3 separate regions of the Homo sapiens genome follow, and regions 2 and 3 are each linked to region 1. Evidence: fine-mapped expression QTL. A gene starts in region 1. Each other region holds a variant in brackets. All regions are shown on one strand. Distances are from middle to middle.

Region 1 (8,180 bases):
GTCGCTTGAACCTGGGAGGCAGAGGTTGCAATGAGCCAAGATTGCACCGCTGCACTCCAGCCTGGGCAACAGAGCAAGACTCAGTCTCATAAATAAACAAATAAATAAATAAAATGTAAGTCAGACCCTGTCCCTCCTCTACTCAAAACCGTATGGTGGATTTCATTTTAGACAGAATAAATGCTGAAATTCCTACCATGGCCCAGGAGCCCCCTGTATGATCTGCCACTTCCCTGTTCCCTCTCTGACCTCTCCCACCTCTCCCCTTGCTCACGCTGAGTCAGCCACAACAGCTTCGGTGCTTTTCCCCAATCGTGACAAGAACGTTTCTTCCCCAAGACCTTTGCACCTGCTCTCCCATCTGCCTGGAACGCTGTCCCCCTAAGAGTGCACACAGTTAACTTCCTCATCACATTCTTTAGCTCTCTGTTCAAATGTCACCTTCTCAGAGACCTTCTTGGACACGATTTTACTGTGTTTTTTCTTTTCTTTTTTTTGAGATGGAGTTTGGCTCTTTTCGCCCAGGCTGGAGTGCAATGGCACGATCTCGGCTTACTGCAAACTCTGCCTCCCGAGTTCAAGTGATTCTCCTGCCTCAGCCTCCCATGTAGTTGGGATTACAGATGCGTGTCACCACGCCTGGCTAATTTTATATTTTTAGTAGAGATGGGGTTTCACCATGTTGGCCAGGCTGGTCTTAAACTCCTGACCTCAGGTGATCCCCCTCAGCCTCCCAAAGTCCTGGGATTACAGGCTCGAGCCACCGTGCCTGGCCCTGGACACCATTTTACTAATAGCATGTTTTATCCTCCTTACCTTGCTTTATTTTTCTTCACAGTGCTTGTCACTACCTGACATACTCTGACTTACTAGAATGTAAGCTTCATGATGGCGGGGACTTTTCCCTGCCTTGTTTGCCACAGTGTGCCCAGAGCCTCAAACAGGCCTGGCACAGAGCAAATGCTGGGTCTACGTCTGCTGAGTGAATAAATCATTGTCTCCTTTGCAAAAGAAAATGTGCCAAGAAGGTGGGTGGGGGGGGTCCCCAGCTGTGTCAGTACACATTCATCTCTCAGGCAAATCTAGACATCCAGCCAGAGACTCAAAGCTCAGGGCCGGAATTATCTAGCTGGATGGTCCCTAAAAAAGACGTGCCACTTAGAAGCAGATCAGTACAGGGGTTAAGAGGATAAACTTGGGAAATAATCTGCCTGGGTTTGGATCTTGCTTCTGCCATGTATTGCATGATGGACAGAGTTTTGCTATGTCACCCAGGTTGGAGAGCAGTGGCACGACCTCAGCTCACTTGCAACCTCCGCTTCCTGGGTTCAAGCGATTCTCCCTGCCTCAACCTCCCGAGTAGCTGGGATTACAGGCGCATGCCACCATGCCCGGCTAATTTTTTTATTTTTAGTAGAGATGGGGTTTCACCATGTTGGCCAGGCTGGTCTCGAACTCCTGAACCCAGGTGATCCGCCCACCTCGGTCTCCTAAAGTGCTGGGACTACAGGCGGGAGCCACCGTGCCCAGCCAAATTTTTTGGATTTTAGAACCTATTACATATTACAACACCGGCGAGATCCAGGGGCAACTCTCCATAAGTATATGATTTGCACAACAAAATCTTTAAAAATTCTAAATAGTCACACATCAGTTCAGAGTGGGTATTGCCAGCAAACAAGTTCAAAGCCAGGTGAGGTTGGCCTGCCAAGTAAGTTGCAAAACAGAGAAAAAGACCTTTCAGTTTTCAGAACGTTTTGGATTTTAAAGTTATAGATAAGGGACTGCAGACCTGTAAATATTCTTTAACATTTCTTTTTTAGTGTCTGGCATCCCCAACCACCCTGAGAATGTGAATTAGCTGGGCAGGATTTTTGTTTTAGACACTGCTATAATAACCTGGGCTTGAACAGTGCCTATTAGACTAGCACCGTTCAAACCCAGGTTATAGTAGTGTAATATCGGTTGCACGGAGCCTTCCATATAGTAAACGCTCAATAAAATTGGATGTGCTGAAGTCACCTATGCAATGGCCAGGTCAGGACTTGAAACCCTAAGACTCCAACCCTCAGGCCAGTCTTTATCTTAATTTATTTGACTTATTCAACAAATGTTTAGGGAACAGCTGCTATGCGTCAACTACTGTATAGTGTTCCTCCTAGAAAGTTCAGGAAACAGCACAGCAAAAAGGCTAAAAGTCAGACCCCACCTCAGCGCAGGTGGGGCGATTGCCTAGGCGACGACAGAGCCTCCCTTCGGCCGCACCTCCATAGAAACCACGGGATGACTTAGACGCCAAGTTTCACAGCGGAGGAGCTGTCGAACTTCCCACAAGTTCCGCCCATCTCCGCCTTAGCCATGCCCAACACGGAGCCCAAGGTGGCTTGGGAAGCTCAAGAGGAGGCCAGTGAACCCCGCGACCCGGAGCCGCTCTCATTCCGAACCCCGACAGCAGGGGCCTCCGCCTCCCACAAACGGTCGTGCTGACGTCACGGACGCCCCGGCCGAGCTGCGGCTAGGGGGTCGGGGGACGTCCCCTCGTTCGCCTCGCTTCCCCTCACCTCTGTACTTGGGGACTGGGGTGGGATTCTGGGCTTCTGCAGCCTGACCCTCGGATCCTCCGCAGTTACCCGGACTCACCTTCTCAGTTGCCCAGCGAAAACTTCCGCTGGGCGGAGAGCGCTGCGCGCGCATCCTGAATCTGAGGCGCCCGCGCAGGCGCCGCTGACTTCCTGACGGCCCCTGGGCTTCGCCTGCCTGGGAACTCCGTTTCCCAGATGCCTCCGCGGCAGGCCCGCCCTCTGATTCCAGACGGAATGGGGATTATTCCCTCATTGCTCATCCCCCTCCCCTCCGTTCTAGCCGCTTTGGAACGCCTTCTGGTTCTACTGCGCATGTGTCAGTGTCAGACCAATCGGAATGCACCGTGAGGTACCTCTCCACCAATCAGAGGTCACATTACCTAAACTTCTGCCTCAACTCCGCCCCTTACTTCCGCTTGTTTTCTCAGAAACCCGTCACAACGCGTTTCCATGGCAACCTACCGCTTGCTCTTCGGAAAAGGTTAACACTCCCTGACTTCTAGTAAAGGCAAGAAGCTAATTAGATGATTCTTTAACAAGGTAAAAATCTGGACTACAAACTGATGCCGCCTGGTCCTGATTCTCTTTCTACTCTACTCCCACAGTGCTAAGGCTGAAGAAGCAGGAGGAGATGGGAAGGCGAAAGAAGTCGCCCGCACAGCCCTCTGGGAAATAGAGTCCTGGCGCTGCCGCGGAGGATCCTGGGTGCAGCCGCTCAGAGAAGCTTCTCGCGCACAGGAAGTCGCTGCGAGGAGGCGCGTGTGCGGGGAGTTGAATCTCCCGCTCCCTTGAGGCTGGGGTTGCGTCTGTTGACGCGGCCGACTACAATCCCGAGGTACGGAGACGCTGGGGCTGAGGGACTTGCGGGCTCGGTCCTTCCTGAGAGGTGACGGAATGCAAGTGGGGGCGACTTCGGCAAAGGGTGCGTCGCCTTGGGCGGCGGTTGTCAGGGTGAAGGTGTGAACCGTCTTTCACAGTCTGTTATGAAAACCGCTCAAGGTCTGGGCACGGTAGATCACGCCTGTAATCCCAGCACTTTGGGAAGCCTTGGCGGGGGGGATCACTTACAGCCAGGAGTTCCTCGAACCCCCAGTCTCTACTAAAAATACAAAAATTAGTTGAGCGTGGTGGCGGGGGCCTGTAATCCCAGCTACTCAGGAGGCTGAGGCAGGAGAATCGCTTGAACCCAGGAGCTGGAGGTTGCAGTGAGCCGAGATCGCGCCATTGCACTCCAGCCTGGGTGACAGAGCGAGACTACATCTTAAAAAAAAAAAAAAAAAAAGAAAGGAAGAAAACCACCTTGGGAGGCTGAGGTGGGCGGATCGCTTGAGCCCAGGATTTCGAGGCTAGCCTGGGCCAGATGGTGAAGCCCTGTCTCCACAAAAGAAGAAAAAAATAGAAAAATTAGCCGGGCGTGGTGGTGCGCCCCTGTATTCCTAGCTAATTGGGAGGCCGAGGTGGGAGGATTGCTTGAACCCAGGAGGCAGAGGTTGCAGTGAGCTGAGAAAGAAAAGAAAAGAAAAGAAAACTGCTAAAGGGGTTTCCAGGCCTCCCTGATGGCCCTGAGAGGAGTGGTTCTGTTTTATTTTGGTTTTGGTTGGGGAAGGAGGGGAATGAGTTACCTGAAGTTGGCAAATTTAGGCAGAATCTTGCTGGACGATGGATGGGAGTTCTTCGGGAAGTTGAAGTACTTAACATTTACAGTATTTGAGTGCTTTCTGTGTGCCAGGCGCCCTGCTGGAGTTGCATTTCCTCTTCTGATCCCCGCAGCAGCACTGAGACATAAGTGCAGGTCCCCTTGGCACCAAGGCAATCTCGGGAATCAGAATTTTTCAGATTTTAGAAAGCTAATAGGGTGCATATTTTATAATTAGGCAGCACCCCCCCACACCCCGAGGAATCTGGGCCAGTTTTTGGTCATAAAATGTTTCTGTGGGGCAAGGTGTGAATATTCACACTTATGAGAACATTAAGACCCTACATGGCCTGTGGCAATCCAGGTGAAGTTTTGCGGTCAGTTTATAAATCAAGTTCTGGTTTTTGGAGCATTTAAAGGACCATAGATCTGTTGTATTTGTTCCATTTGGTACATGTGGAAACTAAGGCTTAGAGAAGGTAAATGGTCTGGAAGGAAGGGCAAGACTCTTGGGCCCAAGGTCTCTCAGCCTGATAATTGTTTGGCTTAAGTCACTCTGGGCTGGATGACCTTGGGCTCCACCTCTGGGCCCTCGTTTCTTTCCTCCCAGAGCTGAGAGTATATGAGATGTGGGCAGAATGTGATTTGGTAACTGCAGACAGGGATCTCAAGCTCAGCTGTCTGTGAGGGCCAGGCAGATGACATACAGGAAAGAAGAGAACTGGTCCAGGTGAGGCTGCGGGGCCTTGGGGAGCACTTGCCTCATCTGAAGGGGAGAATTGTGTTTTTTTTTTGATGACAGAGTCTCGCTCTGTCACCCAGGCTGGAGTTCGGTCTCACTGGAACCTCCACCTCCCCGGTTGAAGCGATTCTCCTGCCTCAGCCTCCCAAGCAGCTGGAATTACAGGCGTGCACCACCATGCCTGGCTAATTTCTGTATTTTTGGTAGATACGGGGGTTTCACCATGTTGATCAGGCTGGTCTTGGACTCCAAACTTCAGGTGATCCGCCTGCCTTGGCCTCCCAAAGTGCTGGGATGGCAGGCATGAGCCACTGCACCCAGCCGCTTTTTAAACTTAAATTTAATTTTTTTGGCCGGGTGTGGTGGCTCATGCCTGTAATCCCAGCACTTTGGAAGGCCGAGGTGGGTGGATCACGAGGTCAGGAGATCGAGACCATCCTGGCTAACACGGTGAAACTCCGTCTCTACTAAAAATACAAAAAATTCTCCGGGCGTGGTGGCAGGCGCTTGTAGTCCCAGCTACTCAGGAGGCTGAGGCAGGAGAATGGCATGAGCCCGGGAGGCAGAGCTTGCAGCGAGCTGAGATCGCGCCACTGCACTCCAGCCTGGGCGACAGAACGAGACTCCGTCTCAAAAAAAAAAAAAAAAACAAATTTAATTTTTTTTTGGAGGCAGGATCTTTCTCTGTCATTCAGGCTGGAGTACAGTGACACAATCATAGCTCACTGCAGCCTTGAACTCCTGGGCTCAAGTGATCCTCCTACCTCAGCCTCCCAAGCGATCCTCCTACCTCAGTCTCCCAAGTAGTTGGGACTACAGGCACGTGCCACCACAACTTGCTCATTTTTAATTTTTTTTTTTTAGAAACAAGGTCTTGTTACGTTGCCCAGGCTGGTCTCGAACACCTTTCAGCCTCCCAAAGTGCTGGGATTATAAGCATCCCCCACTTGCCTAGCACTGGTGGGGGAGCTTTAAATGGGCACCAGTGAACTAACTTCGTGGGATGTAGACCCAATGTTGCCAAATCCTAGGATGTTTCAGAAGTTGGAAACATAATTTTTAGGTGAAATTTCCCAATTTTCAAGTTTGAGACTAGTGAGCCATGCTTGAATTTTCTTTCAAAACATTCTGTCTGCCAACAAACATTATGGGCCAAATATCTGTCAACTGAGTTATACTCGTAGGTTGAGGCTTAACCTCTGACATGTAGAAAAACTCATTGTTCAGTAGAATTAGCATTTATTGTAGGTCTACCATATTCCCATATTTGTAGTCTCAAAAATCTGGACAACTCAGAACAACAAATTTTTTTTCATAAATTTAGTGTCCGTGCCTTACCTGAACTACTACAGGGTATTTTTTAAATATAACTTTAAATTATTCTACCTAGAATGAACGATGATACTTTTCTCTAGGGTAAAGTGTTCAATTATGAAATGCAGCCTGATCCACACTGCGCTGGGACTTTGTTTTGTTTTGTTTTTGTTTTTGTTTTTGAGACGGAGTCTCGCTCTGTCGCCCAGGCTGGAGTGCATGGCGCCATCTCGGCTCACTGCAAGCTCCACCTCCCGGGTTCACACCATTCTCTCGCCTCAGCCTCCTGAGTAACTGGGACTACAGGCGCCCACCACCATGCCTGGCTAATTTTGTTATTGTATTTTTAGTAGAGACGGGGTTTCACCGCGTTAGCCAGGATGGTCTGGATCTCCTGACCTCGTGATCCGCCTGCCTTGGCCTCCCAAAGTGCTGGGATTACAGGCATGAGCCACTGCGGCCAGCCCTGCACTGGGATTTTAATGAAATATGCCATGTATATGCCATATCACCTTTTGAAAATAAAAGTTGAATTTCAAAGCACATCTGGCCTTGGAGTTTGAAGAATTTGTGGACCTGTGTCATTGTTAAGTGATCCGTGCTGCTTTGTGATATGAAATGCTTTCAGCACTCCGCAGATATGTGCTACTTGGTCCACGCAGTGGATACAAATGGGTAAAAATGTCTGTGGTACAGTTTTGCGTATTATGGGTCATGAAAATAACTAGGTGGGCAGTGACTATGATTTTTTAATGAAGTAGAATAAAAGAGACTAGAATAGAAAACATCCCAGTGCATCTTACATTGCAGGGTAAGTATTGCTTCATGAAGCTTTTGTTTAGTTACACTGTGTGTTTGAGTAGTCATGATACTTTTTTTTTTTCTTTTTTGAGATGGAGTCTCACTGTGTTGCCCAGGCTGGAGTGCGGTGGCACCATCTCGGTTCACTGCAGCCTCTGCCTCCCGGGTTCAAGTGATTCTTTGCCTCAGCCTTCCGAGTAGCTGGGATCACAGGCACGTCCCACCAAGCCCAGCTAATTTTTGTATTCTTAGTACAGACGGGGTTTCAGCATATTGGCCAGGCTGGTCTTGAACTCCTGACCTCAAGTAATCTGCCCACCTCGGCCTCCCAAAGTACTGAGATTACAGGCGTGAGCTACTGTGCCTGGCCTATTCTACATATTGGTGGTGTTACTGTGGGTCACGGTTAAAACAAAAGTTGAAATATTTCTGTTGTAGAGATAGTGGCCAGGTGCGGTGGCTCACAACTGTAATCCCAGCACTTTGGGTGGCCCACGAGGGCGGCTTACTTGAGGTCAGGAGTTTGAGAACAACTTGGGCAACAAGTGAGATCCTGTCCCTACAAAAAGTGAAAAAGATTAGCTGGATGTGGTGGCACATGCTTGTAGTCCCAGCTGCTTGAGAGGCTGAGGTTGGAGGATTGCTTAAGCCCAGGAAATTACAGCTGCAGTGGCCCATGATTGTGCCACTGTAGTACTCCAGCCTGGCAACAGAGCAAGACCGTGTCTCCAAAAAAGAGTAACAGTTTCGGAGGCCAATTTACCTGAACTCAAATTCCAGAGATGATAATCAGAAATCCCAGAAGCATTGTTCCATTGGTTCTTTAGACACCTTCGTTCTGTCAACAACTGTAGGTACTTTTACACCTACTGTTAAAGCACCTACTGCGTACTAGGCACCATGCTGGTGCTAAGACACAGCAGTGAGCAAGACAGAAGCTCCCACTGTGGCCATAGACTTTCATCACCAAATCTCCTAAACATGTGCTGACTGACTGTTAGGTGCTAACCCACCATTGTTGGTGGCGAAGCTGTTCTGTAGGTTCTGAAGCACAGTGCAAATGTGGGGCTGAGGTGGCTTCAGTAAATATAGTTGTTGTTGTCCC
Region 2 (8,180 bases), 590 kb after region 1:
CATCTGACCTTTTTATTTTTATTTTTTGTAGAGATGGCGTCTCAGTGTGTTGCCTAGGTTGGTCTGAAACTCTTGGCCTCAAATGATCCTCCTGCCCCAGCCTCCCAAAGTGTTGGGATTATAAGCGGGAGCCACCACACCTGGCCAACTATCTTTTTATTTACTTATTTGCCATCTGCATATCTTCTTTGTTGAAGTGTCTGTTCAGATCTGTTCCCTATTTTTAAATTGGGTTGTTTGTTTTCCTATTGTTGAGTTTTAGTTCTTTGTATACCAGCTTTCTTTTTTCTTTTTCTTTCTTTCTTTTTTTTTTTTTCAGACAAAGTCTTGCTCTGTTGCCCAGGCTGGAGTGCAATGGCGCAATCTCAGCTCACTGCCACCTCCGCCTCCCAGGTTCAAGTGATTCTCTTGCTTCAGACTCCCGAGTAGCTGGGATTACAGGCGCCCACCACCATGACTGGCTAATTTTTGTATTTTTAGTAGAGACAGCATTTTGCCACGTTGGCCAGGCTGGTCTCAAACTCCTGACCTCAGGTGATCCGCCCACCTCGGCCTCTCAAAATGCTGGGATTACAGATGTGAGCCACCACACCTGGCCTGGATACCAGCTTTTTGTCTGAAAGGTGTTTTGAAAAGATTTTCTCACAATCTATAGCTTCTCTTTTTGTTCTCTTAAACATCTGATTTTCCTATCACTCCTCCCCATGCAAAATATACATTTTTTAACTGGATCTTGCCAGGGATTTCAGAGTGAGAACAAGAGTCAGACCTGGCCAATCTGAGTGCTTCATGACCTTGGTTATGATGTGCAGTAGTTTGGATGTATGTCCCATCCAATTTTTTTTTTTTTTTTTTTTGAGACAGAGTTTTGCTTTGTCACCCAGGCTGGAGTGCAGTTGCACAATCTTGGCTCAGTGCAACCTCCACCTCCTGGGTTCAAGTGACCCTTCTGCCTCCGCCTCCTGAGTAGCTGGGATTACAGGCACATGCCACGCCCGGCTAATTTTTGTATTTTTAGGAGAGACGGGGTTTTCCCGTGTTGGCCAGGCTGCCTTCTAAATTTCGTTGTTGAAATTTGATCCCCAATGTTGGAGATGGGGTCCTAATGAGAGGTGTTTGGGTCACAGGGGTGGACCCCTCACAAATAGATTAATGCCCTCCCTGGGAGTGTGGGTGAGTGAGTTCTTCCTCCATTAGTTCCCATTAGAGTTGGTTGTTAAAGAGAGGCTGACACTTGCCTCTCTTGCTTCCTCTATTGTCACGTGATCCCTGCTTTCTTTCTCCTTCCACCAAGAGTAGAAGCAGCTCAAGACTTTCTCTGTATGCCCAATCTTCCAGCCAGAAGAATCATAAGCCAAATACACCTTTTTCTCTTTATAAATTACCCAGCCTCGTGGATCACTTTAGGTCAGGCGTTCGAGACCAGCCTGGCTAACACGGTGAAACCCTGTCTCTACTAAAAATACAAAAAATTAGCCAGGTGTGGTGGCGGGCACCTGTCATACCAGCTACACTGGAGGCAGGAGAATCACTTGTACCTGGGAGGCGGACATTGTAGTGAGCCAAGATTGCACCACTGCACTCTAGCCTGGGTGACAGAGCAAGATCCTGTCTCAAAAAAAAAAAATAAATAAATAAAAATAAAAATTACCCAGCGTCAGGTTTTCCTTTATAGCAAGACAACATGGACTAAGACACATGGTTACTATAGAAATGGACATGTGACCCAAGTTGGACCAATGAGAGCTAACCTTGAGACTTTGGTATCACCATTCAGGAAAGCAGTACCTCTTTTCTGCTAGGTTGTTAAAATGATAGTATGGAAACTTTGAGCTGCTGTGGGCCCTGTTTGTCACCGTGAGGGAAGAGATTCTGCCTGAGAGGAAAGTCAAGATACAGAAAAGTAAAGCCCAGATGGGAAATGAGCTGTATTGCTAAAGATTCATTTTAGTGCCTGGATCCAGTTATGCCTGAAGCTAGTTATACAGCTCGGTTCTATAAGTCAACAAATTCCCTTTGTTAAAAACAAAAAAAAGCCAGAGTACTTTCCAGAGAGCAAGGCTTATTATAATAATAATTAAAGCAGCATACTCTTGCGAGGAAAAACAAATAGGCCAAAAGAACAAGACGGAAAAATCAGGAAAAGTTCACACATATATGGTAACTTGGTTTATGACAAAAGCAACATTTCAGTGCAGTGAGAAGCAAAAGATGATCTTTTTGAATCAATAGGGCTGAGCCAGTTGATAGCCATATGACCTCTACCTCACACCATACACAAAAATTGATTCCAGATGTGTTGTAGATCTAAATGTTAAAGCTTAAACAATAAAACTTCTAGAAGAAAATATCATAGAGTATCTTCAGAACCTTCAGGGTAAGAAAATATTTCTTTTATTTACTTGTTTGTGTTAATAGAGATAGGGTCTCGCTATGTTGCCCAGGCTGGTCTCGAACTCCTAGGCTCATGTGATCCTCCCTCCTCAGCCTCCCAAAGTGCTGAGATTACAGGCATGAGCCAGTGTGCCTGGCCAGAAAATATTTCTTAAACCAGAAACAAAGGAGCCTTAACTATAAAGGAAAATGTTGATAAATTGGACTATATTAAAATAGAAACTGATCCTTATCAAAAAATACCACTAAGAGAATGAAAAGAGAAGCCAGAGAGTGGGAGAAGAATATGTATTCTAACAAAAGACTCATAAGAAAAATAAAGAAAGAACTACTAACCTGTTTTTTAAAAAAGGCAGAAAAACCAGTCAAAAAGTGGACAAATGGCGTGAATTGACATTTCACAAAGTAGCATATTCATATGGCCAATTAATATTTGAAATGGTGTTAAATTTCTTTCTATTTTTTTTTTTTTTTGAGACTGAGTCTCGCTCTGTCTCCCAGGCTGGAGTGCAGTGGCGTGATCTTGGCTCACTGCAAGCTCCGCCTTCCGGGTTCACGCCATTCTCCTGCCTCAGCCTCCTGAGTAGCTGGGACTACAGGCACCCGCCACCGCGCCCAGCTAATTTTTTGTATTTTTAGTAGAGACGGGGTTTCACCGTGGTCTCGATCTCCTGACCTCGTGATCCACCCGCCTCGGCCTCCCAAAGTGCTGGGATTACAGGCATGAGCCACTGCGCCTGGCCCGAAACGGTGTTAAATTTCTTTAGGCATTGGGCTAAAGGTAAATTAAAACCATAATAAAACACGGCTACAGCCCCACCAGAATTGCTAAAATTGAAAGGACTAACAATACCAAATGTTGGCGAGCAACTGAAATTCTCAGAGACTGCTAGTGGGTGTATAAATGGAGAAAATTAGTTTGAAAACCTGGTTGGCAGTGTCTATGAAGGATGAACATGAAGCTGGGAATGGTGACTCACGCCTGTAATTCCAACACTTCGGGAGGCGGCAGATCACCTGAGGTCAAGACCAGCCTGGCCACTCCCATCTCAAAAAAAAAAAAAAGATGAACATGC[A/C]CACACCATGTATACACCCTGGGACCCAGCAATTACACTTCTAGGTATATACCCAACAGAAATACAGAAATGCCTACATATGTTCACCAAAATTCAATGTATATAGCAGTACTATAAGTGATCATGCCAAATCAGAAGGCACCTAAATGTCAATCAACAGTAGAATGGATACATAGATTATTATGTATTCCCATAACACACTTTTTTTTTTTTGAGACAAGATTGTCCTCTGTCACCCAGGCTGTAGTGCAGTGGTGTGATCTCAGCTCACTGCAATTTCTGCCTCCCAAGCTCAAGCCATCCTCCCACCTCAGCTTCCCAAGTAGCTGAGATGACAGGCACGCACCACCACACCCCACTAATTTTTGTATTTTTTTTGTAGAGACGGGGTCTTGCTATGTTGCTCAGGCTGGTCTTGAACTCCTGTGCTCAAGCTATCTGCTTGCCTCACCCTCCTAAAGTGCTAGGATTATAGGCATGAGCCACCATGCCTGGCTCATAACACACTCTTATACAGCAATGACAATGAACAACCTCCAACAATCAGCAACTACATGGACAAATCTCATAGACGTATGATGAATAAAACAATTCAGGCCAGGTGCAATGGCTCACGCCTGTAATTCCAACACTCTGGGAGGCCGAGATGGGCAGATCACAAGGTCAAGAAATAGAAACCATCCTGGCCAACATGGTGAAACCCTGTCTCTACTAAAAATACAAAAAATTAGCCGGGTGTGGTAGTGCGCACCTGTAATCCCAGCTACTCAGGAGGCTGAGGCAGGAGAATCGTTTGAACCTGGGAGGCGAAGGTTGCAGTGAGCTGAGATCATGCCACTGCACTCCAGCCTGGTGACAGAGCGACTCTCCGTCTCAAAAAAAAAAAAAAAAAAAAAAGAGAGAATTCCAACACACAAGTCTCTATGCTTGTAGGATTCCAAGCAGATTAAGATAAAAAACAAGGCAAACTAACTTATGGTGTCAGAAATCAGGGTAGTAGTTACTTTTGAGGTAAAGAAGTGACTGACAAGGGGCCGGGCGCGGTGGCTTACGCTTGTAATCCCAGCACTTTGGGAGGCCGAGGTGGGCAGATCATGAGGTCAGGAGATCGAGACCATCCTGGCTAACACGGTGAAACCCCGTCTCTACTAAAAATACAAAAAAATTAGCCATGCATAGTGGCAGGCGCCTGTAGTCCCGGCTACTCGGGAGGCCGAGGCAGGAGAATGGCGTGAACCCAGGAGGCGGAGCTTGCAGTGAGCCGAGATAGCGCCACTGCACTCCAGGCGAGACTCTGTCTCAAAAAAAAAAAAAACACAAAAAAGTGACTGACAAGGAGCATGAGGGGTTTGGAGAGCTGGTAATGTTCTAGTTCCTGACCCAGGGCTGGTTACCCATGGTTACATGGTGTGCTCAGTCTGTTATCTGATCCATACTTACTGGGTATTTGTGAGTTTCTTTGTGAGTATGTTGTACTTCAATAATTGTTTTTTTGAAACTGGGTCTCTGTCATCCAGACTGGACTGCAGTGGCTCAACCATGGCTCACTGCAGCCTTGACCTCCTGGGCTCAAGCGATCCTCCCACCTGAGTAGCTGGGACTACAGGTGCACACCATGGCACTTGGCTATTTATATATATATATATATTTAAAGAGATGGAGTCTTGCTATGTTGCCAAGGCTGGGTCTCGAACTCCTGGGCTCTAGTGATCCTCCCATCTTAGCCTCTCAAAGTGCTGGGATTACAGGCATGAGCCACCGAGCTTGGCAATAATTTTTTAAAAGGCCAGTTTTTTGTCTCTTGAAAGTGGAGGAGTCTTGGCAAGTCCAGCAAATGGCATATACTATTTTGTTTCTCTTCCCTCCCCTTTCAAGTGAGAATTGTGATTGTTTTCTTGTTTTTCCTCCACTGTTATACACAGGGGTGGGTTGCTGAGGGGGCTACAATTTCATTTAACATTAATTTTTTTTTTAGATGGAGTCTTGCTCTGTCACCAGGCTGGAGTGCAGTGGCACAATCTCCGCTGACTGCAACCTCCGCCTCCCAGGTTCAAGTGATTCTTCTGCCTCGGCCTCCCGAGTAGCTGGGATTATAGGTGTGTGCCACCATGCCGGGCTAATTTTTGTACTTTTAGTAGAGACAGGGTTTCACCATGCTGGCCAGGCTGGTCTTGAACTCCTGACCTCAGGTGATCCACTTGCCTTGGCCTCCCAAAGTGCTGGGATTACAGGTGTGAGCTACCGTGCCCAGCCTTAACATTAATTTTCAGGATCAAGAGAGACTCCATGTGCCCTTGATGAAAGGAATAGCCAATATCCAGAAATCTTGGTCTGAGGATTGGATGTGGCTTTGGGATCCCTCCCTTTGCAGAAGGGGTGAAAGCTTCTGCAGTTGCACTAGAGATAGTTATGTTAGGTGGGAGTATTAGTTTTAGCCAACTTTATCAAAATATAATTTGTGTACAAGAAAATGTATCAATATTTCAAAAAGATATTTGCAACACACTTTCATAGCAGCATTATTTACAATACCCAAAAGGTGAAGGAGGCAACCCAGCTGTTCATCAACAAATAAATGGTTCGACAAAATGTGGTATATACACATAATGGATTTTTTTTTTTGAGATGGAGTCTCGCTCTGTCGCCCAGGCTAGAGTGCAGGGGTGCGATCTTGGCTCACTGCAACCTCCGCCTCCCAGGTTTAAGTGATTCCCCTGCCTCAGCCTCCCGAGTAGCTGGGACTATAGGCGCCTGCCACCACGCCCGGCTAATTTTTTGTAGTTTAGTAGAGATGGGGTTTCACCATGTTGACCAGGATGGTCTCGATCTCCTGACCTCGTGATCCGCCTGCCTCTTCCTCCCAAAGTGCTGGGATTACAGGTGTGAGTCACTGTGCCTGGCCCATAATGGAAAATTATTTAACCTTAAAAAGGAAGGAAATGCTAACACATGCTACAACATGGGTGAAGCCTGAGGACATTCATGCTAAGTGAAACAATCCCATCACAAAAAGACAGATGCTGTATGATTCCACTTACATGAGGTACCTAGAGTAGTCAAATTCATAGGGAATTTCCCAGAGAGTAGAACGTGCTTCCCAGGGGCTGGGAAGGGAAGGCAGTGGGAGTTGCTTGATGGGAACAGTTTCAATTCTACAAGAGGAAAGAGTGGAGATGAGTAGGGGTGATGATTGCACAACAATGCAACTGTACACTTAAAATTGGCTAAGTCCTGGGGAGGTGGCTCATGCCTGTAATCTCAGCTACTCTGGAAGCTGAGGCAGGAGAATCGCTTGAACCGGGGAAGTGGAGGTTGCAGTGAGCCAAGATCATGCCATTGCACTCCAGCCTGGGCATTGCAGCGAGACTCCGTCTCAAAAAAAAAAAATTGGCTAAGATGATAAAGTTTGTGTTATGTGTATTTTGCAACAATGTACAAGAATTTAAATGAACCAATTTTAAGCGCAATGAATTTTGACAAATGTATTCGGTTGTGTGATCACTTCCATCATCCGGAAAGTTTCCCTGTGTCCACTAGTAATCAGTCTCTCCATAACCACTGCCACTGCCCCCAGTCAACCACTAATCCATTTTCTGCCCCTGCGTATTAGCCTTTTCTTTTCTCTTTTCTTCTCTTCTCTTCTTTTCTTTTCTTTTACTCTGTCACCCAGGCTGGAGTTCAGTGGTGTGATCTCAGCTCACTACAACCTCCGCCTCCCAGGTTCAAGCCATTCTCCTGCCTCAGCCTCCAAAGTAGCTGGGATTACAGGCACTCGCTACCACACCCGGTTAATTTTTGTATTTTTAGTAGAGATGGGGTTTTACCATGTTGGCCAGGCTGGTCTTGAACTCCTGACCTCGTGATCCACCTGCCTTGGCCTCCCAAAGTGCTGGGATTACAGGGTGAGCCACTGTGCCTGGCCTCTGGCGTCTTTCTTTCTTTCTCTTTCTTTTCTTTTCTTTTCTTTTTTCTTTCTTTCTCTCTCTCTCCTTCCTTCCTTCCTTCCTTCCTTCCTTCCTTCCTTCCTTCCTTCCTTCCTTCCTTCCTTCTCTCTCTCTCTTTCTTTCTCTCTTTTTTGAGTTGGAGTCTCACTCTGTTGCCCAGGCTGGAGTGCAGTGGCATGATCGGCTCACTGCAACCTCCGCCTCCCGATTCTCCTACCTCAGCCTCCCAAGTAGCTGGGATTACAGGTGCCAGGCTGCTTTTGAACTTCTGATCTCAAGTAATCCGCCTGCCTCAGCCTCCCAAAGTGCTAGGATTACAGGCGTGAGCCACCATGCCCTGCCCATATTAGTGTTTTCTTTCTACAGTTTCACAAAAGTGGAATCCTACAGCATATACCCTTGTATCTGGCTGTATCACACGGCATCATGTTTTTGAGATGCAGGGCAGCAGTGCCATCACAGCTCACTGCAGCCTCAAACTCCTGGGCTCAAGTGATCCTCCTGCCTCAGCCACCAGAGTAGCTGGGACTACAGGTGAGCACCATCATGCCTGGATAATTTTATTATTATTATTATTATTATTATTATTATTATTATACCTGGATAATTTTATTATTATTATTATTATTATTATTATTATTATTATTATTATTACTACTACTACTACTACTATTATTTGTAGAGACAGGGTCTTGCTATGCTGCCCAGGCTGGTCTCGAACTCCTGAGCTCGAGCAATACTCCCACCTCGACCTCCAAAGTAGCTG
Region 3 (8,180 bases), 840 kb before region 1:
GGGATTACATCAGGGATGGGGCGTGGCCAAACCAGAGGCAGGGCTGGTGGTGGCCAGTGTTGGGGAGGGGCTGGTCCTCACCACCCCTCCTTTTGCTGGCAGATGTATCTGCTCTCGGACAAGGCCACCTCGCCGCTCTCGCTGGATGCTGGCCTCGGGCAGGCCCCCTGGAGCGACCTGCTTCTTTGGGCACTGTTGCTGAACAGGGCACAGATGGCCATGTACTTCTGGGAGATGGTGAGTGCTGACTTGGCGCTCCTGCATCCCTGTCCTTTAGGCCACTGGATGCCAGTGTTCCCGAAACAATTACCATACAATTCCCCGACCCCTGACGTCACCTGACAGGCGCCCCATCCTCCGTCGCTGATATATGCCTCCAACTGCTTCCTCTTTCTTTTCTCTCTCTCACATCATGCATTATTTTATGTGTTTATTTTTTGAGACAGAGTCTCGCTCTGTCGCCCAGGCTGCAGTGCAGTGGCGCAATCTTGGCTTACTGCACCCTCAGTCTCCCGGGTTCAAGTAATTCTCCTGCCTCAGCCTCCGGAGTAGCTGGGATTACAGGCACCTGCCCCCACGCCTGGCTAATTTTTGTTTTGTTTTGTTTTGTTTTAGTAGAGATGGGGTTTCACCATGTTGGCCAGGCTGGACTCCTGACCTCAAGTGATCCACCCGCCTCGGCTTCCCAAAATGCTGGGATTACAGGCATGTGCCACCGTGCCTGGCCAAGATTCTCTCTTTGTTTTGGCCTTTGATAATATATCTCAGTGTGGATCTCTGTGAATTTCTTTTTCTTTTTCTTTTTTTTTTTTTTTTGAGATGGAGTCCTGCTCTGTTGCCCAGGCTGGAGTGCAGTGGCATGATCTCGGCTCACTGCAAGCTCCACCTTCTGGGTTCATGCCATTCTCCTGCCTCAGCCTCCCGAGTAGCTGGGACTACAGGCGCCCGCCACCACGCCCAGCTAATTTTTTGTATTTTTAGTAGAGATGGGGTTTCACCGTGGTCTTGATCTCCTGACCTTGTGATCTGTCTGCCTTGGCCTCCCGAAGTGCTGGGATTACAGGCGTGAGCCACTGTGCTTGGCCTGTGAATTTCTTTTACTTGGAGTTCCTTGAGCTTCCTGGATGTGTAGACTTTTGTCTTTCATCACATTTTGGAAGTTTTTAGGACATTATATCTTCAAATATTATTTCTTTCCCTTTCTGTCTCTCTTTTCCTTTTGGACTCTCATTATGTATGTATTAATATTCTGTATGGTGTCTCGCAAGTCCCTTAGGCTCTGCTTATTTTCCTTCATTTGTTTTTCTTTTTTCTCCTCAGGCTGGATAATCTCAATGTACTTAGCTTCAAATTCACTGATCTTTATTTTGCCTTTTTTATGAATCTACTGTTGAGTCCCTCTAGTGGTTTTTATATTTCAGTTATTGTGCTTTTTAGCTTCAGAGTTTCTATTTGGTTCATTTCTGTCTCTGTAGTCTTTTTTTTTTTTTTTTTTTTTTTTTTGAGACAGAGTCTCGCTCAGTCGCCCAGGCTGGAGTGCAGTGGCTCAATCTCCGCTCACTGCAAGCTCTGCCTCCTGGGTTCACGCCATTCTCCTGCCTCCACGCCATTCTCCTGCCTCAGCCTCCCAAGTAGCTGGGACTACAGGTGCCCGCCACCACGCCCAGCTAATTTTTTTGTATTTTTTTAGAGACAGGGTTTCACTGTGTTAGCCAGGATGGTTGCGATCTCCTGACCTCGTGATCTGCCCTCCTCGGCCTCCCAAAGTGCTGGGATTACAGGCGTGAGCCACTGCGCCCGGCCTCTGTAGTCTGTCTTTTTTTTTTCCTGGTCCCACTACAAAACTTTATTTTTGATTACAGTACCATTCTCAATCTCTTCTACAAAAAGCAGAAAAAAAAGCAGCCACTTCACTCAAGACCTATATACAGATAAGATGTTTTCTGTGTTTTTTTCTTTTTTTTTTAATTTTTATTTTTAAAAAAATAAATTCAGTGTTCACATTTCTATAAAGAATTAACCCAGTTTCAGGAAACCCTGCCTCTATCTCTGTATTCTTATTCTCTAGGTGGTGAGACATCTTTTTCCTGGCTCCCTTTAGTTCTTTTTTCATGATTTCCTTTAGCTCTTCGAGCATATTTAAGACAATTTATTTAAAGCCTTTGCTAGTAAGTTCAGTGTCTGAGTTTCCTCAGGGATAGTTTCTATTCATTTATTTTTTTCCTACTCATTTCTATTCATTTCATTTCTTTTCTTTTATTTATTTATTTGTTGTTCTTGTTGTTGTTGTTGAGACAGAGTCTCATTCTGTCACTCAGACTGGACTGCAGTGGTTTGACCAAAGTTCACTGCAACCTTGACTTCTTGGACTCAAGCAATCCTCCCACCTCAGCCTCCTGAGTAGTTGGGTCTACCAGCCACATGCCAAGCTAATTTTAAAAAATTTGCAGAGATGGGGTCTTACTATGTTGCCCAGGTTGGTCTTGAATTCTTGGGCTCAAGCAATCCTCCTGCCTGGGCCTCCCAAAGTGCTGGGATTACAGGTGTGAGCCACCATGCCTGGTCTCTATTAATTTCTTTTTTTTCCAGTATATGAACCATATTGTCTTGTTTCTTTGCATGCCTCATAATTTTTGGTTGAAAAGTGGAACATTTTGAATATGATAATGTGGCAACTCTGGAAATCAGCTTATGCCCTCCCTCCAGGGTTTGTTGTGGCTGCTGCTCATTGTGGGTCATTGTTGTTTGTTTAGTGACTTTTCTTTTTTCTTTTTCTTTTTTTTGGGGGGAGGGGGGATGGAGTCTCACTCTGTGGCCCAGGCTAGAGTACAGTGGTGCAATCTCGGCTCACTGCAAGCTCCACCTCCCAGGTTTAAGTGATTCTCCTGCCTCAGCCTCCCAAGTAGCTGGGATTACAGGTGTGTGCCACCACACCCAGCTAATTTTTGTATTTTTCATAGAGACGGGGTTTCACCATGTTAGCCAGGCTGGTCTCAAACTCCTGACCTCAGGTGATCCACCCACCTTGGCCTCCCAAAGTGTTAGGATTACAGGCGTGAGCCACCGCGCCCACCCTGTTTAGTGACTTCTCTAAACCTTTTTTGGAAAGTCTGTATTCTTTGCATGTGTGGCCATGGAAGCCCCTCTTCTGTTAGCTTAGTGGTCTGCTGGTGACTTGACAGAGATATCCTTAAATGCCTAGAACCACAGAAGCAAATATAACAAGAAACTCCCTATAAGTGCTGGGATTAGAGGCATGAGCGACGCCCACCGTGGCTGTATATTGAAGCAGTCTTTCAATACTTAGCCAAGCTGTTTACAGTTCTGCTTTAGTCTTCACTTCCTGCTTGTGCAGAGCCTAAAGTTCAGCCAGATGTAAGAGCTTCAGGTTTTCTCTGGTATTTTCTGAGCACGCCTCTAGCCCTAGTCATGCATCTAGCCGTCTGGATTTCCTGGTACACAAGGAAGACTTTCAAAGCCCTTATTCCCTCCAAGTATTTCCTTTCATGGCCTCTTTCTTCCCAAGATGCTTAGTGTATCTATTACTGCCTCTACTGTGAGTCCTTGCCTCAGATGGATGTGGTTAATTCATTTGCCTTTAAAAGATTTTAACAGGCCGGGTGCAGTGGCTCACACCTGTAATCCCAGCACTTTGGGAGGCCGAGGCAGGTGGATCGCCTGAGGTCAGGAGTTCGAGACCAGCCTGACCAACATGGAGAAACCCTATCTCTACTAAAAGCACAAAAAATTAGCCTGGCATGGTGGCGCATATCTGTAATTCCAGCTACTCGGGAGGCTGAGGCAGGAGAATTGCTTGAACCTCGGAGGCAGAGGTTGTGGTGGGCTGAGATTGCAGCATTGCACTCCAGCCTGGGCAACAAGAGTGAAACTCCGTCTCAAAAAAAAAAAAAAAGATTTTAACACACACTGCCTGGAAAGCCACTTTTTCTCTGGGGAAAGCTCTAAGGCAGGTGAAGCAAAGTCAAGTCCTTGAGCTGTTGCTTCAGGGAGCCACCAGATAGGGCCACACACACAACCACAATTCTGGAGGGTAAGTCTGAATTGCTCCCTCTAGTACTAGCGACCCACACCAGGAATGTGTGTCTTTGTCTTCAAGGTTGCCACTGAACTGGGGAGCTGGGGGTAGTAAGTGGGTAGGTTAAAATGTCACAGTACCCTCTTACTGAAATTTAGTGGTCTCTTCATTAAGCATTTTCTTGTTTTTTTTTTTTTATAAGTTTTCGATTAGATTCCAGAATTCTAGAAAAGTTGATTCTGACA[A/G]CTTTTGATAGCTATTGATTGCTTTTGTGGAGGGATAAAGTTTTGAAGTTCCCTACACTGGCATTTTTGGTCACCTCTCCAAGGGCTTTTAAAAATTTCATTGTTAGAGACAGGGTCTTCCTCAGTCATCCAGGCTGGAGTGCAGTGGCATGATCATGGCTCACTGCAGCCTCAACCTACTGGGCTCATTCGATCCTCCTACCTCAGCTTCCCTAGTAGCTGGGACTACAGAAGCAGACCACCACGCCTGGCTAACTAAAAAAAAAAAAATTTTGTAGAGATGGAGTCTCACCATGTTGCCTGGCTGGTCTTGAATTCCTGGGCTCAAGCAATCCTCCTCATTTGTAACCACCCAATGGGTTCACGTTGCCCGCTGCCTAGACAGAGCCGATTTATCAAAACAAGGAAAGTGTAATGGAGAAAGAGTAATTCGCGCAGAGCCGGCTGTGCGGGAGACCTCAGTTTTATTATCACTCAAATCAGTCTCCTCGAGGATTCAGGGATCAGAGCTTTTAAAGATAATTTGGTGGGTAGAGGCTTGGGAAGTGGGGAGTGCTGATTGGTCAGGTTGGAGATGGAATCACAGGGGTTGGAAGTGAGGTTTTTCTTGCTGTTTTCTGTTCCTGGGTGGGATGGCAGAACTGGTTGAGCCAGACTACAGTCTGGGTGGTGTCAGCTGATCCATCCAGTGCAGGGTCTGCAAACTATCTCAAGCACTCATCTTAGGTGTTACAGTAATGATGTTATCCCCAGGAGCAATTGGGGGAGCCAGAGGCTGCGTGACCCCTAAACTTAATTTCTAATCTTGTAGCTAATTTGTTAGTCCTGCAAAGGTAGACTGGTCCCCAGGCAAGATGGGGGTCTTTGGGGAAAGGGCTATTATCAATTTCGTTTCAGAGTCAAACCATGAACAGAATTCCTTCCCAAAGTTAGTTCAGCCTATGCCCAGGAATGAGCGAGGACAGCTTAAGGGTTAGAAGCAAGATGGAGTCGGTTAGGTCTGATTTCTTTCATTGTCATAATTTTCTCAGTTATCATTTTTGCAAAGGTGGTTTCACTTCAGCCTCCCAACGTGCTGGGATTATAGTCGTGAGCCACTTTACCCAGCCTCCAACTGCTTCTTGACCTGTCTGTGACTGCTGAATTGATTCTAACTGCAGCCCAGCCCCTGACTTGCATCCCTGGTCTCTGAACCACCTGACTTCTGGCATTTTCAACTGACTTTCAGTTTCTTCCAGATCCATCTCCAAACATTACTTCATCCTTGGCCTCTGATGACCCCAGTTAGTTTCTGACCTCTGACTCTGTTCCTTCCCTTGACTTCAGGCTTCCTCCCCCTCTATGAACCCTCTTTGACGCATCCGTGCCCTCTTTGTCTCTCCAGGGTTCCAATGCAGTTTCCTCAGCTCTTGGGGCCTGTTTGCTGCTCCGGGTGATGGCACGCCTGGAGCCTGACGCTGAGGAGGCAGCACGGAGGAAAGACCTGGCGTTCAAGTTTGAGGGGATGGGCGTTGGTGCGTGGGGCACGGTGCCTGGGAGCAGGGACGGGGGCTGCCGCCAGAGGGGGATGTGCAACTCCGCACTCCTCACATATCCCTGCGCCATCCCCTTAAATTCCCTTACCTCTCCCTTCACACCCTCACCCTACTCCTTCCCATCCCTGTCACATAACTAACTCCTCTGCCCCAGACCTCTTTGGCGAGTGCTATCGCAGCAGTGAGGTGAGGGCTGCCCGCCTCCTCCTCCGTCGCTGCCCGCTCTGGGGGGATGCCACTTGCCTCCAGCTGGCCATGCAAGCTGACGCCCGTGCCTTCTTTGCCCAGGATGGGGTACAGGTGAGTATCTGCGACACCAACATCCCAAACAGTCTCCAAGTGGACTCTGGGAAGTATGGGGATGAGCCCCTGCCATTGGGAACATCTATGGTCTTGACCAGCCACTCTCCCTGGAGATCCCCCAGAAAGTCTCTCTTCTCTCTCAGAAAGGCTGCTCTTCCCATAAGAAGCCCCGCTCCCTTCCACCAAAAGCCAACCTTCCCACGGCAAAGCCCATCTTCCTAAAAAGTTCCACTCCAGATAGAGAAACTCCTTGTGACCCTGTCAGGAAATTCCACCTTTAACCTTGGAAGTCCTTCCCGCTTTCAGGGAAGAGTCCATTTCTTTCAAAGGAAGTCCTAGCTCATCCACAGGAAGTCCTACGGCATCCACAGGAAGTCCTTTCCACTTCCTTTAGAGGTCCCTAGTTTCAGTTTTCAGCAGTTAGAATGGCCTCACTGAACAATTACCTTTTTTTTTTTTTGGACATAAACAAACTTTGGTCTAGGAAATCTCACCCTTCCTATAGGAAATCATCTGCCTTGGGAAGCCCTACTTGCTCCCACAGTCTCTCCGATCCTGACAAGTTGACATTTTGGAAACATTATCAATATTTTTAGTTTAAATCTGACAGGGGCTCAGAGTCCCACTTTAGTACAGGAAGTTGTGCCCAACAGGAAGTCCCATCCTCATCTGTTGGAATGGTTTGGCTGACATTTCAAACAGCTACCCAGAGTCCCTTGCTGTGGATAGTGGTTAAACTCATGGATTCCAGCTCTACCACATACAAACTGTGTTTCTTTGGGCCGTTTCCTTAACCTCTCTGTGCCTCATGTGTACCAAGGAGGAGATACTAGTACCCACCCCCTTATGTGTCAAGGGTTCGGTGGACTAATCTACATAAAGTGCTTAGCCCTGTATCTGCCATATGGTGTCAATTTAAGTGTTGACTGTTTACTGCCAAAACCTGGCCTAAGTTGTCTTTGCCTTTCACCACCGTTTCCCTACCTCAATAGTTGTGGCTGTGACATTGGGCACTTGCTCTGTACTCTGGAGCTGCAGTCCAACCCTTGCTGGGCGTCTTAGGGACGGGGCTGTGGGGGAGATTTGGATCCTAATCCTTCCCACCCCCCACAGTCTCTGCTGACACAGAAGTGGTGGGGAGATATGGCCAGCACTACACCCATCTGGGCCCTGGTTCTCGCCTTCTTTTGCCCTCCACTCATCTACACCCGCCTCATCACCTTCAGGTCAGTACCCTGGGGTGAGAGTGGTGGGGATGGGGGCGGGGTGCTCAGTTTCTCCTTCCTGCCCCCTCTGCCCACCTTTCTTCCCTCATCGGCCCATTGTGTCCCTTCCCTAGGAATGGGACTCTCTGTCCCTCCACTAAGGGAGTGCTGTGGGAGGTGAGTTTTGGGGGGGATCCTCCCTGTGGTATCTCTAGTGGCAGTTACTCTGCCTTTCTGGCCATGGCTCTGGGGGAAGGTCCCTTTGGGATGACTTTAGGAGACCACCTCTCTGTCCCTCTGCCATGTCTCCGGGTGAAGAAGTTTGAGTTTTGCTGGAGAATGCCTCTCCACCTTCTCTTCCCCTCATTTCTTGCTCTGTGCTTCCCCCCTTGCTAGGAAATCAGAAGAGGAGCCCACACGGGAGGAGCTAGAGTTTGACATGGATAGTGTCATTAATGGGGAAGGGCCTGTCGGGTGAGTGGAGCCTCCAGCACTGTGTGAGGTGGGGACACCCTGGGCAGTTCAGGACATGTGCCAGTTCCACGTTGTGTTAGTCCCCTCTTGAGTTGCTACAAAGTTGCTAAACCTGAGACTGAGTAATTTATAAAGAAAAGAGGTTTCATTGGCTCATGGTTCTGCAGGTTGTACAGGAAGCATAGTGCTGGCATCTGCGGCTGGTGAGCCCTCAGGAAGCTTCCACTCATGGCAGAAAGTGAGGGAGGAGCCAGTGTATCACATGGCGAGAGCAGAAGCAGGAGTAGGGGTGCCACATAGATCTCATGTGAACTAACTGAGCAAAAAGTCTCCAAAGGGATGGTGCTGAGCCATTTGTGAAGGACCCACCACCAGGACCCAA

The links. PIP is the estimated chance that this variant, and not a neighbour inherited with it, causes the effect.
Region 2: its variant is fine-mapped to the expression of ZNF473 in prefrontal cortex (GTEx, PIP above 0.99).
Region 3: its variant is fine-mapped to the expression of ZNF473 in sigmoid colon (GTEx, PIP above 0.99).

What each region holds. Positions count from the first base shown.
Region 1 is chr19:50,022,706-50,030,885 of GRCh38, forward strand. It overlaps ZNF473 (zinc finger protein 473), which reads left to right and starts at 3,300. Exons shown (of 5, transcript NM_015428.4): 1 at 3,300-3,417. VRK3 (VRK serine/threonine kinase 3) reads right to left here and starts at 2,667. Exons shown (of 15, transcript NM_016440.4): 1 at 2,562-2,667. RefSeq lists enhancers at 1,973-2,474, 2,524-2,603, 2,944-2,993, 3,404-3,453.
Region 2 is chr19:50,611,927-50,620,106 of GRCh38, forward strand. No RefSeq gene overlaps it. Among named protein-coding and RNA genes, the nearest start is that of SNAR-F, 11 kb to the left of the region's middle. The variant A/C (reference allele first, on the strand shown) is at 3,471.
Region 3 is chr19:49,182,976-49,191,155 of GRCh38, forward strand. It overlaps TRPM4 (transient receptor potential cation channel subfamily M member 4), which reads left to right. Exons shown (of 25, transcript NM_017636.4): 12 at 103-237; 13 at 5,666-5,795; 14 at 5,971-6,116; 15 at 7,233-7,345; 16 at 7,721-7,798. Among named protein-coding and RNA genes, the nearest start is that of TRPM4, 29 kb to the left of the region's middle. RefSeq lists enhancers at 5,413-5,914, 5,915-6,414. The variant A/G (reference allele first, on the strand shown) is at 4,282.